Linked DNA regions of Homo sapiens: regions 1 and 3 are each reported to be linked to region 2. Evidence: microRNA targets listed by miRTarBase, many of them from high-throughput screens and not tested one by one. Region 2 holds a microRNA gene; each other region holds the end of a gene's coding sequence.
Evidence for each region. Region 2 holds the annotated microRNA hsa-miR-6847-3p (GGCUCAUGUGUCUGUCCUCUUC, at 2,965-2,986, shown strand). A microRNA usually pairs through its seed, bases 2 to 8, with sites in the 3' UTR of a target mRNA and lowers its output. Matches are read on the target gene's strand: a 7mer-m8 pairs with bases 2 to 8, a 7mer-A1 pairs with bases 2 to 7 and ends in A, and an 8mer does both.

Region 1 (4,211 bases), not on the chromosome of region 2:
GCTCATTGCAACCTCCACCTCCCGGGCTCAAGCCATCCTTCCACCTCAGCCTCCCGAGGGGCTGGGACCATAGGTGCACACCAAGCTGTTATTTTAAGCCATTGTGTTTTAGATGTTACAGCAGCAATAGATAACTGAAACAGCAGAGATTTTTTTGAACTATTGCTACAATGTAGACCATGTGTTCCCCTTCAGGTAGTTAATAAAGGCAAATAAAAATTTTATTTTGTAATTATAATTTAAGTTGCTGGAATATGTTTGCATTTGGTATTACCTTGAACGTGAACTATGAGTAATGACTTCCTGACCACTATAAAAATTAAAATATACAGGCTTTGTGTTCTGACAGAGAGCTGTTACAATGGTTATATGGGTAACTGAGAAAATAAGTAGAATATTAACAGAGTACAGATATGAAATAAAAGTTTATGTCCTGGCTGGGCTTGGTGGCTCATGCCTGTAATCCCAGCACTTTGGGAGGCTGAGGCGGGTGGATCACCTGAGGTCAAGAGATCGAGACCATCCTGGCCAACATGGTGAAACCTCATCTCTACTAAAAATACAAAAATTAGCCAGGCATGGTGGTGGCGCATCTGTAATCCCAGCTGCTGGAGAATCACTTGAACCCAGGAAGCGGAGGTTACAGTGAGCGGAGATTGCACCATTGCACTCCAGCTTGGGCGACAAGAGCGAAACTCCATCTCAAAAAAAAAAGTTTATATCCCAAACAGATGTGAGTAGTAAGATGTCCACTAATATTTTTCAACACTGCACAAATTAAGCTCTGGGTGGCCATTCCAAAATGGCAGAATGAAACTTTCACATCATCTGAAATTGGTTATTTTTAAGATTTAGAATCTTGTTTTATAGAAAATCATGGGTTTTATTCTTCTTGGATGTGAAGTGAAATGAAGGGTGCTACCTAATGTCAATAGACAAGATGACTTGGAAACACATCAGTGTCACCCTATGGGCCAGACATGGTTTATCCAGCTCAGCACATTATGGCTGCTAAGCAACTGGAAAATATAGTCATCTTCCTTGATATTCACCACGATGATTAGGCAACTATGAGCCAAAAGAATTGTTCAAATATGGTATTGAACTCTCCAGTTTCTCCTCTGATGGTCTCTGTGGTGTTTGCTGAGAGCAAAAATGAGATGCTTTGGTTCTGTTTGGTTCTGTTTTTCCTTCCTCTAGTCTAGGCTTTTACATACCTCTATAGAACCCCTTTGAAATGGTTTTAATTTACAAGCCTATTTCTTCCACTAGATGATGAGCCCAACTAGGATGAAGGCCATGTCAACTTTATCTAGGTATCTCTTGGGTATGATCTCATCATCATCCCACACTCTTCCATGGCACCACAGCCACTTTACCTGTGTCCTAATCACAACTTTTTGGCTTTTCCCATTGGTTTCCCCAACCCCAGAAAAATGGGACAAATGTGGTTGCAAGTTTCTAGTGTGGTTTGTGAAAACAGTCCACCTAAATAGAATTCCCCAAAATTAGTGAAGCATGGAAAGAGTCCAGACACAAGGATTCATATTAAAATCATTACATACATATAGGACAGCCATCATGCTCACCCTTTTTCTGCAAACCATAGCATTCAAAGCAATTTTGAAGAGCCTCAAAGACAAAATGAGCAAAAGTTAATCAGACTTTATTTTTATTTTCTTTGTCTTCATTTAATTGTTCATATCTCTGCTAATGCACCATAGAGCACCAAGATTAACACTAAAACTGTTGGGCACTTTTTTTTTCTTGTCAAGCTAATAATAGTTATTTAAAAAAAAAAAAAAGAGAGAGTTCCTCTGAAGGTGGAGCTCAGCACCATACATCAGGCAAATGTCCTGGGCTCTCTGTGGGGAGCATGACAAACTCCTCTGGTTTGATTCATCGCAGCAGTTCTCTCAACAGCTTTGTTTTGAGACATGAACAAGAAAAGAGCACCAGCTATTCTTATAAGGACCCAAATCTCCAAATTCTGCTGACCTCTTAGGAGTTGATATTTTGAAATTAGAAGGACACCCTTAGGAGTGATTTTTTTTTTTAAGTTCAGAGTCTGTTAATCTGTATTAATCTAGTTTACACTCCCTACAGGCCAGGTAGACACAAGTTTCTCAGCACAGCAAAGATCATGTCTGTGGTTAAACTCAGAAAGGTCTGAGGGAGTAAAGCTCTGAGTGAGGTTTTGCCAAACAACAGAAGGCTAAATCTGGCTTCTTTGTACTTAGGGCTACTGATCGCTGTTGGAGGAAACTTTGGCAGATGCAATTCCTCCCTTCCTGGTCTTTAATCTAGGTTAAATATCACCACCTCGTCCCACCTCCACCACCAGGACAAAGAGTTATGCTACTATTATAAATTGTACTCTCCTGTCCACTATTCCTTTCCAAAAACAAATCACATGACATTACAGAAGCTTAATTGCAAAGTACGTGAGGTGCTAATATCGATGTATAGCATATTCAAAGTATATGTAGCTAATATCTATATATAAATTCTCTGTGTAAGATTCAGGCCTAAATAAATAAATGAATAAACAAATGAATGAATAAATAAATAAATAAAACCATATTAGCAGTTTGGGGGTTCTGAATGTATTTAAATGATCATTGTGAGGCAAAGATTCTGACTTGCCTACCAAGATAACCATTCTTGCCTACAATCCCAGCATTTTGGGAGGCCGAGGCAGGCGGATCACCTGAGGTCAGGAGTTCAAGACCAGCCTGGGCACATGGTGAAACCCCATCTCTACTAAAAAAAAAATACAAAAATTAGCCGGGTATGGTGGCACGCACCTGTAATCCCAGCTACTGGGGAGGCCAAGGCACAAGAATTGCTTGAACCCAGGAGGCGAAGGTTGCAGTGAGCCGAGATAGTGCCACTGCACTCCAGCCTCGGCAACAGAGTGAGACTCCGTCTCTAAAGCGAAACAAAACAAAACAAAACAAAACCCAAATAACCATTCTTCCTTTTTCTTGCCAATTAGCGTGAACCCAGTATTTAGCTGAGAATATAGCTACCCAGCCAAACAACTACATTTCCAGCCTCTTTTGCTCATGACATCATGTGACTGAGGTCTTGCCAATGAGATATAAGAAGAATCGAGTGGGACTTCTGGGAAGTCTCCTTGAACAGGAAGGGTGTGTGCTTCTCTGCCCTTTCCTCTATTTTATCAGAAACATGGATGTGATGGCTGAAGATGTAATCAGCACTGGGATGTTGGGGATAAGGGTGAGAAGGGTCACATCCTACTAATGGTAGAGAAATAGAAGAAGCCTGGGACCTGGATTACTTCACAGGGTCCCAGGATGGTCTGCCTCCAGACTTCTTCTGCACAAGAAAGAAATACACTTCTATCTTGTTTAAGCCACTGATATTTTAGGGTTTTAATTCTATGCAGCTAAATCTAAATCTAAATGATACACACAAATCTTTACCTTCTGCTACACTGTGGTAGTCCAGCTTCCTAAATGTCTCACTCCATCCCTGTCTATTATCTTGGTGGATTTGGTTACCCCGAGGTTCTTTATTCTCCCTGACACATTTAGTCACATACTCCCCTCAGTTCCAGGCACCAGTAACACTTCCAGGCTCCCAAAACGACACACAGCAGAGTTCCATTGTCCTAAATAAATGGTGATTTTAGGGCAGGGAATCAAAAAGAGTTTGTCCATTGGGTGAACTGCTTTGGCACAATTGCTTGTCTGCTCCATGCCCTCCTGGAACCCTCAAGATGGTAAAACTGATCAGTATGGACTCTGATTTCCCAGAAGAACTGCGGAGAGTAGGGGGTAATTTAAAGAAATAATCTGCTGGAATTTTAAGATGATATATAGGCTACTGGGGCCAGAGGAGGGAGTAAGTTGTTGGGAGTTTAGACCGTGGAGGTTTCTACTTCTTGGATGGGGTCCTTGTTGGAGAGAGTGCTTGAGATATTGTCGGATTCAAGCAACTCCACAATGCTGTAGGGAGAACAGTCCTCCAGACCCAGCTTGCTGCAGAGCCAGCCACAGAAGCCTTTCTCCATGTCCCGGGCAGCTTGCCACCATGCTTCCCAGGACCACGAGAGCTGGACCACAGCAGCGTAGAGGCCGAGGGAAGAAGCCATGGCCATGATGAGCACTGGATAGAAGAGAACGAGGCAAGGGCAATACGAGATCTTGTGCCAGAAGGTCCTTTCCTCATTATACACGAGGAAG
Region 2 (4,211 bases):
CCAGCTACCTGGGAGGCTGAGGTAGGAGAATCGTTTGAACCCAGGAGGTGGAGGTTGCAGTGAGCTGAGATTGTGCCACTGCACTCCAGCCTGGGTGACAGTGAGACTCCATCTCCAAAAAAAAAAAAAAAACCTTAGCCAGGCATAGTGGCAGGTGCCTGTAATCCCACCTTCCCAGCTACTTGGGAGGCTGAGATAGAAGAATCACTTGAACCCTGGAGGTGGAGGGTGCAGTGCGCTGACATTGTGCCACGGCACTCTAGCCTGGGTGCAGAGTAAGACTCCATCTCAAAAAACAAAACAAAACAAAGAAACAAACGAAAAAAACGATGACTCAGTAAGAACAGGGACAGTAAGAGCTCAGACTGAAAGGGGAAAAGGGCTCCACAATAAGCAGAGTGGCTGTAGAGCAGAGGGTGGGGAATCCGGGGTGGCAAGTGGCAGAGGGTGGTGACCCATCATGGCCTCAGACCAGCTGCAGCAGCAGGGTTGTGGCTTGCTCACTCACTCTCATGCCTCAGTCTTTCAGGAGAGCTTAACCACCTTGGAGGGGATGCTGTGACAACTGAACTTGGGCCCCTGCAGCAGACCACATTTCCCTAGCCCGCCTGCTCTTCCTACAGTCTAATATTGACACTCCTCCCACTGAAGGGTGGGGTCCCTGTCCTCATCCCTTAAGCCTGGGCAGATCTGTCTGACTGCCTTGACCCACAGAGTGTGGCAGGAGGGACACTATGTGACTTCTGAGGTTAGGTCCTAAAAATACCATGCACATGTTGTCCACCTTGTTGTCCTGGAAGGCTACCCTTGGAACCCAGTTGCCATACTGCAAGGAAGCCCTGGTTGCATGGAGAAGCCACATGTAGGTGTGCTGCCTGACAGGCACAGATGAGGTCCTGGCCCGCCACCAGCATCAGCCACCAAAGATGTGAGGGAGAAAGCTTTAGGATGGCTGCAGCCCCAGCTACCATCTGGCAGCAACTGTAGGAGAGATCCTAAGTGCAAACTATCTAGCTGAGCCTAGATAACCCCAGATTGCAGCACATAATAATAGAATGATTTTTATTATTTGAAGCCGCTGAGGTTAAGTGGCAAGAGATAAACAGACATACAACCCCTCTCTGGAAAGGATGAGGAAATCTGCATCCTCAAAGGGAAAAGGGAGGCCCACCTGACTGCAGTGTGGAAGCTCGGTGTAAAGGGAGGGCATGAGAGGACTGGAGAGGTGCCAGGTGTGGACCATCCTGGGACACCAGCCTGGTCACTTTCCTAGGACCGCTCAATGCCTTCTCCTGTCAGTGTCGCACCCCACTGGGTTCATCCTTCCACTTTCACACTTGGGGCGCGGGGAAGGGCTGAATGCAGGCACCACTGGTCACGAGGGCGTGACTGGGCAATTCCTCCTTCGGCGGGCGCCCACCTCCTGGCACCCGTGGCACAGCTCCGGGAACGGCTGCGGGCCCAGCCGCTGCTTCCCCGATAGCGCCGCCGCAGTTCCCCGGAGACAGAAGTAGAGCCGGACCGCCGGAAACCGTAGATCCGGGGAGGTCGGGGCCGCGGTGAACTCCAGTTCACCAGGACAGGAAGTGACAGCGGAACGCCGGAAACCGCAGATCCACGGAGGTCAGGGCCGCGGAGAGCTGTAGTTCCCCGGAACCGGAAGTGATGGCGGACCTCCGGAAACCGTAGATTCCGGGCGGTCGGAGCCGCCGGGAGCTGTAGTTCTCCCGCGGCTCAGAGAAGTAGGCAGAGAGCGGACCTGGCGGCCGGGCAGCATGGCGGGGCTGGAGCTCTTGTCGGACCAGGGCTACCGGGTGGACGGGCGGCGCGCCGGGGAGCTGCGCAAGATCCAGGCGCGGATGGGCGTGTTCGCGCAGGCTGACGGCTCGGCCTACATTGAGCAGGGCAACACCAAGGCACTGGCTGTGGTCTACGGCCCGCACGAGGCGAGTGGGCGCGCGGGATGGGGAATCGTGTGGCCGTGGGAGCTGCGGGGCAGCCGGGCTGAGCGCTGGCTCGGGGACTTGAGGGGCAACGGCCGGCGCGCCTCAGTCTACACAGCCGATGCTCAGCACCGCATCTCACTCGGAGTAAACGCAAGTCCTTAGTGTGCTGCGCGGTGGTCCTGCCTTTCTCATCGGCCTCTGTCCCTGCGCCCTCCTTCCTCTTTGCGGCTCTTCAACGTGCTAGGCACTCCCCCACTCGCTCCCTCTCCTTTCAGCTCTACTCCGACGTCACTCCTTCCCAGACGACCTTATTATCCACGCGGTACTTCTCGCCCTACAATAAACCCTTTGTTTTGTGCACCTACAATCTCAAATGCCTATTTTGCTTAAGCATTTTCCCCTTTGTTTCCTCGCTGGAACATAAGCTTCCTAAAGAAAGGAACTTTACATAAAACTATCTGGTTTCATTACTGTGCTTCCAGCGCTGTAACTGCCTGGCCAGCGAAGGTATTGAAAGAGTGTTTGCTTAGCGCATGAGTGTGGGAGCTCTGCTTTCCAGGCGGAGGGAACCAGAAGGGCGAAGACCACGGTGGTGAAAACAAGCAAGGCACTTATGCAGAGCAGAAAGACTGCTGGTGGGGAAAGAGGGGATAACTCCAAATCAGGTTGAGGGTTCCCGGGGAGGTGAGGACTTAGGGTTTTGTAGAGTAGGGAAATGATTTGGGATCTTATTTCATATGTAATGTGAAACCTTTGTAAGGTAGTTAGGATTTGAGTGTGTAGGTGAGACAGAAGCAGCGTTGATGTTTGTAAACTTGGGTTGGCAGGGAATGGGGCAAGGATGGACACAAGGAAGCCAATTAAAAGGTGCCAGAGGGCGACACATGCAAGACAGAGAGCGCAAAACAGGGGGCTTTGTTTTGGAGGTAACGCAGTTGCCCCTTGCTGAGGCATTGAAAGTGGAGGGAGAGGCAGACCCACAGAGGACAGTGGAGTGTGAGCTGGAAGGAGTGGGCCTGGCTCATGTGTCTGTCCTCTTCCAGATCCGGGGCTCCCGGGCTCGAGCCCTGCCGGACAGGGCCCTAGTGAACTGTCAATATAGTTCAGCGACCTTCAGCACAGGTGAGCGCAAGCGACGGCCACATGGGGACCGTAAGTCCTGTGAGATGGGCCTGCAGCTCCGCCAGACTTTCGAAGCAGCCATCCTCACACAGCTGCACCCACGCTCCCAGATTGATATCTATGTGCAGGTGAGCCAGCTGCAGCCGTCAATCCAGGGAGGGAAGGGTGTGATGGGGTTGGGGAGGGAGTCTGATAGACTGACACCCTGGGTTCCCTGCAGGTGCTACAGGCAGATGGTGGGACCTATGCAGCTTGTGTGAATGCAGCCACGCTGGCAGTGCTGGATGCCGGGATACCCATGAGAGACTTTGTGTGTGCGTGCTCAGCTGGCTTCGTGGACGGCACAGCCCTGGCGGACCTCAGCCATGTGGAGGAAGCAGCTGGTGGCCCCCAGCTGGCCCTGGCCCTGCTGCCAGCCTCAGGACAGATTGCGCTGCTTGAGATGGATGCCCGGCTGCACGAGGACCACCTGGAGCGGGTGTTGGAGGCTGCTGCCCAGGCTGCCCGAGATGTGCACACCCTCTTAGATCGAGTGGTCCGGCAGCATGTGCGTGAGGCCTCTATCTTGCTGGGGGACTGACCACCCAGCCACCCATGTCCAGAATAAAACCCTCCTCTGCCCACACACCCCTCACTGTACGTTATCACCTAACAGCACTTCAGAGCCATGTGAAGGCTGGCAGAGCCTGGTCTGGTGCTGGCTCCTGGGGATGATTAGGGACCCTCGCCCACACATGAACGGCCTATCTCTGTGTAGCCTGATTCAAACCCTGAAGAGAACAGTGGATTAGGGGGTTTCTGTAGGGGAGGCCCTGGGTGGAAAAAGCAGCATGTCCCAGTAAGGACTCAAGGCAGCTGAGCAGGAGGCAGGGCCTGGCAAGATGAGCCAGGCCATTAGACTGAGGAATCTGTTACCCTTATTCCAGCACATCGGGGGCCCTGAGCAAAGGGCTGAGGAAGAACTCAGCTGGCTCTGGGTACCCACCCTAGGGATGTGGGGGCCATGTCCCACAACCTCTGGACTATGGTTTGGAGCCCCCTGGGCTTTTCCTGCTGCTTACCTTGGGCTCTGAAAGTACAACAGCCAGGCATGGTGGCTCACGCCTGTAATCCCAGAGCTTTGGGAGGCTGAGGCAGGCGGAT
Region 3 (4,000 bases), not on the chromosome of region 2:
CAGGAACCTCCAGAAGGCCAGTGTGGCTCAGCAGAGGGAGCAAGAGTGGAGGTGGAAAGCAAGATACAGATCACATTCTGCCAATGAGTGATAAAAGAAACCAGAGAAGAGTTTCAAACAGGAAAAAGATGAACTAATTAAAAACACAAAAAGTCACTCTGGCTGCTGTGGGGAGAAGAGTCTACGGAGGGACAAAGGTAGCATGGAGACCAGTTAGGAGGCTACTACAGTACTCCAAGTCAGAGACAGTGGTGGCTTGGGAAGATGATAAGTGGTCAGACCCAGACATATTTTGAAGGTAGAGTCAATAGGATTTGCTATACTTGTAAGCAAGAAAGAGGATTCAAGGATGGCTCCAAGGATTGGGGCCTAAGCAACAGAAGGATGGAGCTGCCACTGATTCAGTTGTGGAATTCCAGAATAAGGGCAGATGGTGGGAATGGGAATCCAGAGTTGCCCTCTGGATATATTCAGTATAGGATGCCTAGTAGACATCAAGAAGGGCTGCTGAGTCATGGTGTTTCTCTTTCCCACCCCCGACGGTGAGGCTGACATTGCTCCCTGCCATCCTTTGCAGGACAAGAAGCTCATCAAGGCCTTCTTTGAGGTGCTAGCCCACCCCCAGAACTACTTCAAGTACACAGAGAAACACAAGGAGATGCTGCCAAAATCCTTCATCAAGCTGCTCCGCTCCAAAGTTTCCAGCTTCCTGAGGCCCTACAAATAGTAACCCTAGGCTCAGAGACCCAATTTTTTAAGCCCCCAGACTCCTTAGCCCTCAGAGCCGGCAGCCCCCTACCCTCAGACAAGGAACTCTCTCCTCTCTTTTTGGAGGGAAAAAAAAAATATCACTACACAAACCAGGCACTCTCCCTTTCTGTCTTTCTAGTTTCCTTTCCTTGTCTCTCTCTGCCTGCCTCTCTACTGTTCCCCCTTTTCTAACACACTACCTAGAAAAGCCATTCAGTACTGGCTCTAGTCCCCGTGAGATGTAAAGAAACAGTACAGCCCCTTCCACTGCCCATTTTACCAGCTCACATTCCCGACCCCATCAGCTTGGAAGGGTGCTAGAGGCCCATCAAGGAAGTGGGTCTGGTGGGAAACGGGGAGGGGAAAGAAGGGCTTCTGCCATTATAGGGTTGTGCCTTGCTAGTCAGGGGCCAAAATGTCCCCTGGCTCTGCTCCCTAGGGTGATTCTAACAGCCCAGGGTCCTGCCAAAGAAGCCTTTGATTTACAGGCTTAATGCCAGCACCAGTCCTCTGGGGCACATGGTTTGAGCTCTGGACTTCCCACATGGCCAGCTTTCTTGTCTATACAGATCCTCTCTTTCTTTCCCTACGTCTGCCTGGGGTCTACTCCATAAGGGTTTACAAATGGCCCACAACACTGAGTTAGTGGACACCGGCTAAATGAGGAAGAGCAGCAGGCATTGTCATGGTGAATGCCCCGCTGTAGCTCCCTGAGAGAAAGACTGTAACTCTGCAGGACAGAAACAAGGTTTTAAAGCATTGCCAAAAAAAAGAAAACAGAAAGAAAAAATGTATCATCTAAAGGACTAGACACAGAACAATTGGAAGTCAACTTCAAACACTAATCCCTTTTCTTGTCTTCCCTGGCCCAGCCACCTCCTCAGCCCCATGTGATGCTCCCTGGGGGAGCCCTACTCCCCTTGCTACATGTTGTCCTTAAACATGGTTATTGACCTGAAGCCAGCCTAGGCCTTGCCCTACAGTTGTTTTTCCCTTGTAGCCCCAGCTGGCTTGTGGGCTTCACCAAAGAGGACCCCACTCTGAAGCCAGCCTGGAGCCACCTACCTCTGGCCTCAGGCTGTGGGCAGCAAAAGGAATGTGTGTGCACTTGGCGAGCCTCCTGCCCACCCTGTCCACACCTAATAAGTGCAATCATTTTGAGTCTTTCTATGTTGTCTAGACGGAGGGGTTTTTGTTTTCTGGGTTTGTTTTTTGTTTTTGTTTCTTCTTCCTCTATTAGCAAAACCCTATTTATAGCTGCCCAAGAGAAAAGAGTGTATGTTTGGAGTGGAAGAAAATCGGTTTTGAATCTCATGAACCTTGAGTGCTGGAGCATCTGATCTGTCTCTATGCCACCACTGGCCACCTAGAGCCCTTGGCTGTGGTAATCCAGGGTAATTGCGCAGAGGCATCTGATGTGTAGGAAAGTAATTCTGGGGATTTGATGGAGCAGAAAGGAGAGAGACCTATGTTTGCTAAACCAATCTTGCTATCCCTATGCCTCTCCATGGAGTCAGTGTGGACCTCATGATTATAGAGGCCAATGGAACTGGTCAGTGATTCTCTACCCCAAGTAGGGAAAACCTCCATCTTTTCCCTGTCTTCATCCTGTTATCCCCTGGTGTACACATGGAAGAGGACCAGGACATACCACCTGGGGATGGGCTGACTCAGGGTCCCGAGGCCAGAGACAAAGCTGTGGGAGCCAAGAATAAGACAGAAGGCATCAGATATTTGCCTGGCTCTGGTCACTTCCCTTTGAAGTTGACTTCAAGCTTAGCTTCCTCAACTACTGTTTTTCAGAAGGAAGAAAGAATCAAATGGAAGAAGAATCAAGTCCATGCCCAAGCCCAAAGCCTGCACACATTCTGCCCTTAATCCAAGTGTTGCCTATAAAATTATTTTCTGTTTTCTCACTCTAGTTCCCCCAAAGCTGTAGTCCCAATCAATCAAAGGCTACCAACTGAGTCCTCAGGTTCATTTCTTTTTTTTTTTTTTTTCTTTTTAACTCTCCTGGTAACTCACAGAACAGCTCAGGTTCATTTCTAGGTGACTGTCCTAGGCTACTGCTCCCCCAGGAGACTCAACACTAAATAAAGGAGTCTGACTCCCTGCCCTCCCATCAGTAGCATTCATCAGCCAAAACGGCCATAGCAGTAGGTAGCCAATGACACAGCTAGATTCCCTGACAACCATTAGCCAACATCATGGTCCTTGTGGGTAGAGTGTCTGGCTACCTTTGTCTTTCTGGGTCAAGGAGGGCCACTGTAAAGATGCAAAATGGCTGCTTCCAAACAAGGGAAATGGTCATTTAGTATGAGTGTCTCTGTACTTCCCAGGAAGCACCATGAAAACTGCTTTAATCAACTCTGACTATCCTAATTCTCCACCAGAAGCTAGGATAACTTTCTTTCTTTCTTTCTTTTTTTTTTTTTTTTTTTTTGAGATGGAGTCTCGCTCTGTCACCCAGGCTGGAGTGTAATGGTGCTATCTCGGCCTACTGCAACCTCCGCCTCCCAGGCTCAAGCAATTCTGCCTCGGCCTCCCAAGTAGCTGGGATTACAGGCATGCGCCACCGCGCCCAGCTAATTTTTGTATTTTTAGTAGAGATGGGGTTTCACCATGTTGCCCGGGCTGGTCTTGAACTCTTGACCTCAGGTGATCCACCCGCCTCAGTCTCCCAAAGTGCTGGGATTACAGGCATGAGCCACCGCGCCCAGCCTAGGATAACTTTCTGATTCCTCTCTGCCAGCCGTTTTGCGTCTCTTGGAAAGCCAAACGGTGACCATGCTTCTTAATTTATGCCTTCAGGGTCTGGCTTCTCCTTTCTCCCTTCCTTTCCTGTCACACCATGCATACATACATACAAATACACATCCTTCAACCATTTATTCCATGGCTTATGAGACCTGCAAATGAGTTCCACAGTACGGAAGGCATAGACCACTAGGCTTCTTAATTGATGTCAAGGCAGATCTTGGTGAGCAGGTAAAAACCTGCTATTGTCCACCAAGTTTAATTTAGGTCCTCCAAGTTGGAGGGTTAAGAACCCAGGCAAAGCTGCTGCTGAATCTATGGAGGAGGCTGGCCCTGGGACATCAAACTAGGGGTTAACTGGATTGAATGAGGAGTCAACGCTCAGGGACATTCTAGGTCTTTACAGGTCAGACAGAAGAGAGGTTTTTACCATTGGAGGGAAATGGAAAGATGGTATAAATAGGATCCCTTCATGAAGCAACCCAGAGGCCTC

Region 1: the mRNA of TMEM169 is a reported target of hsa-miR-6847-3p. Seed matches in the 3' UTR shown: 8mer at 3,064-3,071.
Region 3: miRTarBase lists SCUBE3 as a target of hsa-miR-6847-3p. Seed matches in the 3' UTR shown: 7mer-m8 at 3,452-3,458.

Annotation. Positions count from the first base shown.
Region 1 is chr2:216,100,218-216,104,428 of GRCh38, reverse strand. TMEM169 (transmembrane protein 169) reads right to left here. Exons shown (of 3, transcript NM_001142311.2): 3 at 1,646-4,211. The coding sequence ends at 3,887. Among named protein-coding and RNA genes, the nearest start is that of XRCC5, 7.0 kb to the left of the region's middle.
Region 2 is chr8:144,076,954-144,081,164 of GRCh38, forward strand. It overlaps MIR6847 (microRNA 6847), which reads left to right and starts at 2,921; the gene lies at 2,921-2,989. It overlaps EXOSC4 (exosome component 4), which reads left to right and starts at 1,719. Exons shown (of 3, transcript NM_019037.3): 1 at 1,719-1,946; 2 at 2,990-3,196; 3 at 3,289-3,695. The coding sequence starts at 1,776. The coding sequence ends at 3,648. It overlaps LOC124902038 (a long non-coding RNA gene), which reads right to left. Exons shown (of 2, transcript XR_007061141.1): 2 at 1,046-4,211. RefSeq lists enhancers at 1,431-1,480, 1,491-1,790.
Region 3 is chr6:35,247,979-35,251,978 of GRCh38, forward strand. SCUBE3 (signal peptide, CUB domain and EGF like domain containing 3) reads left to right here. Exons shown (of 22, transcript NM_152753.4): 22 at 578-4,000. The coding sequence ends at 727. All of the region lies in intron 1 of SCUBE3-AS1 (SCUBE3 antisense RNA 1), which reads right to left. Among named protein-coding and RNA genes, the nearest start is that of SCUBE3-AS1, 9.5 kb to the right of the region's middle. RefSeq lists an enhancer at 1-253.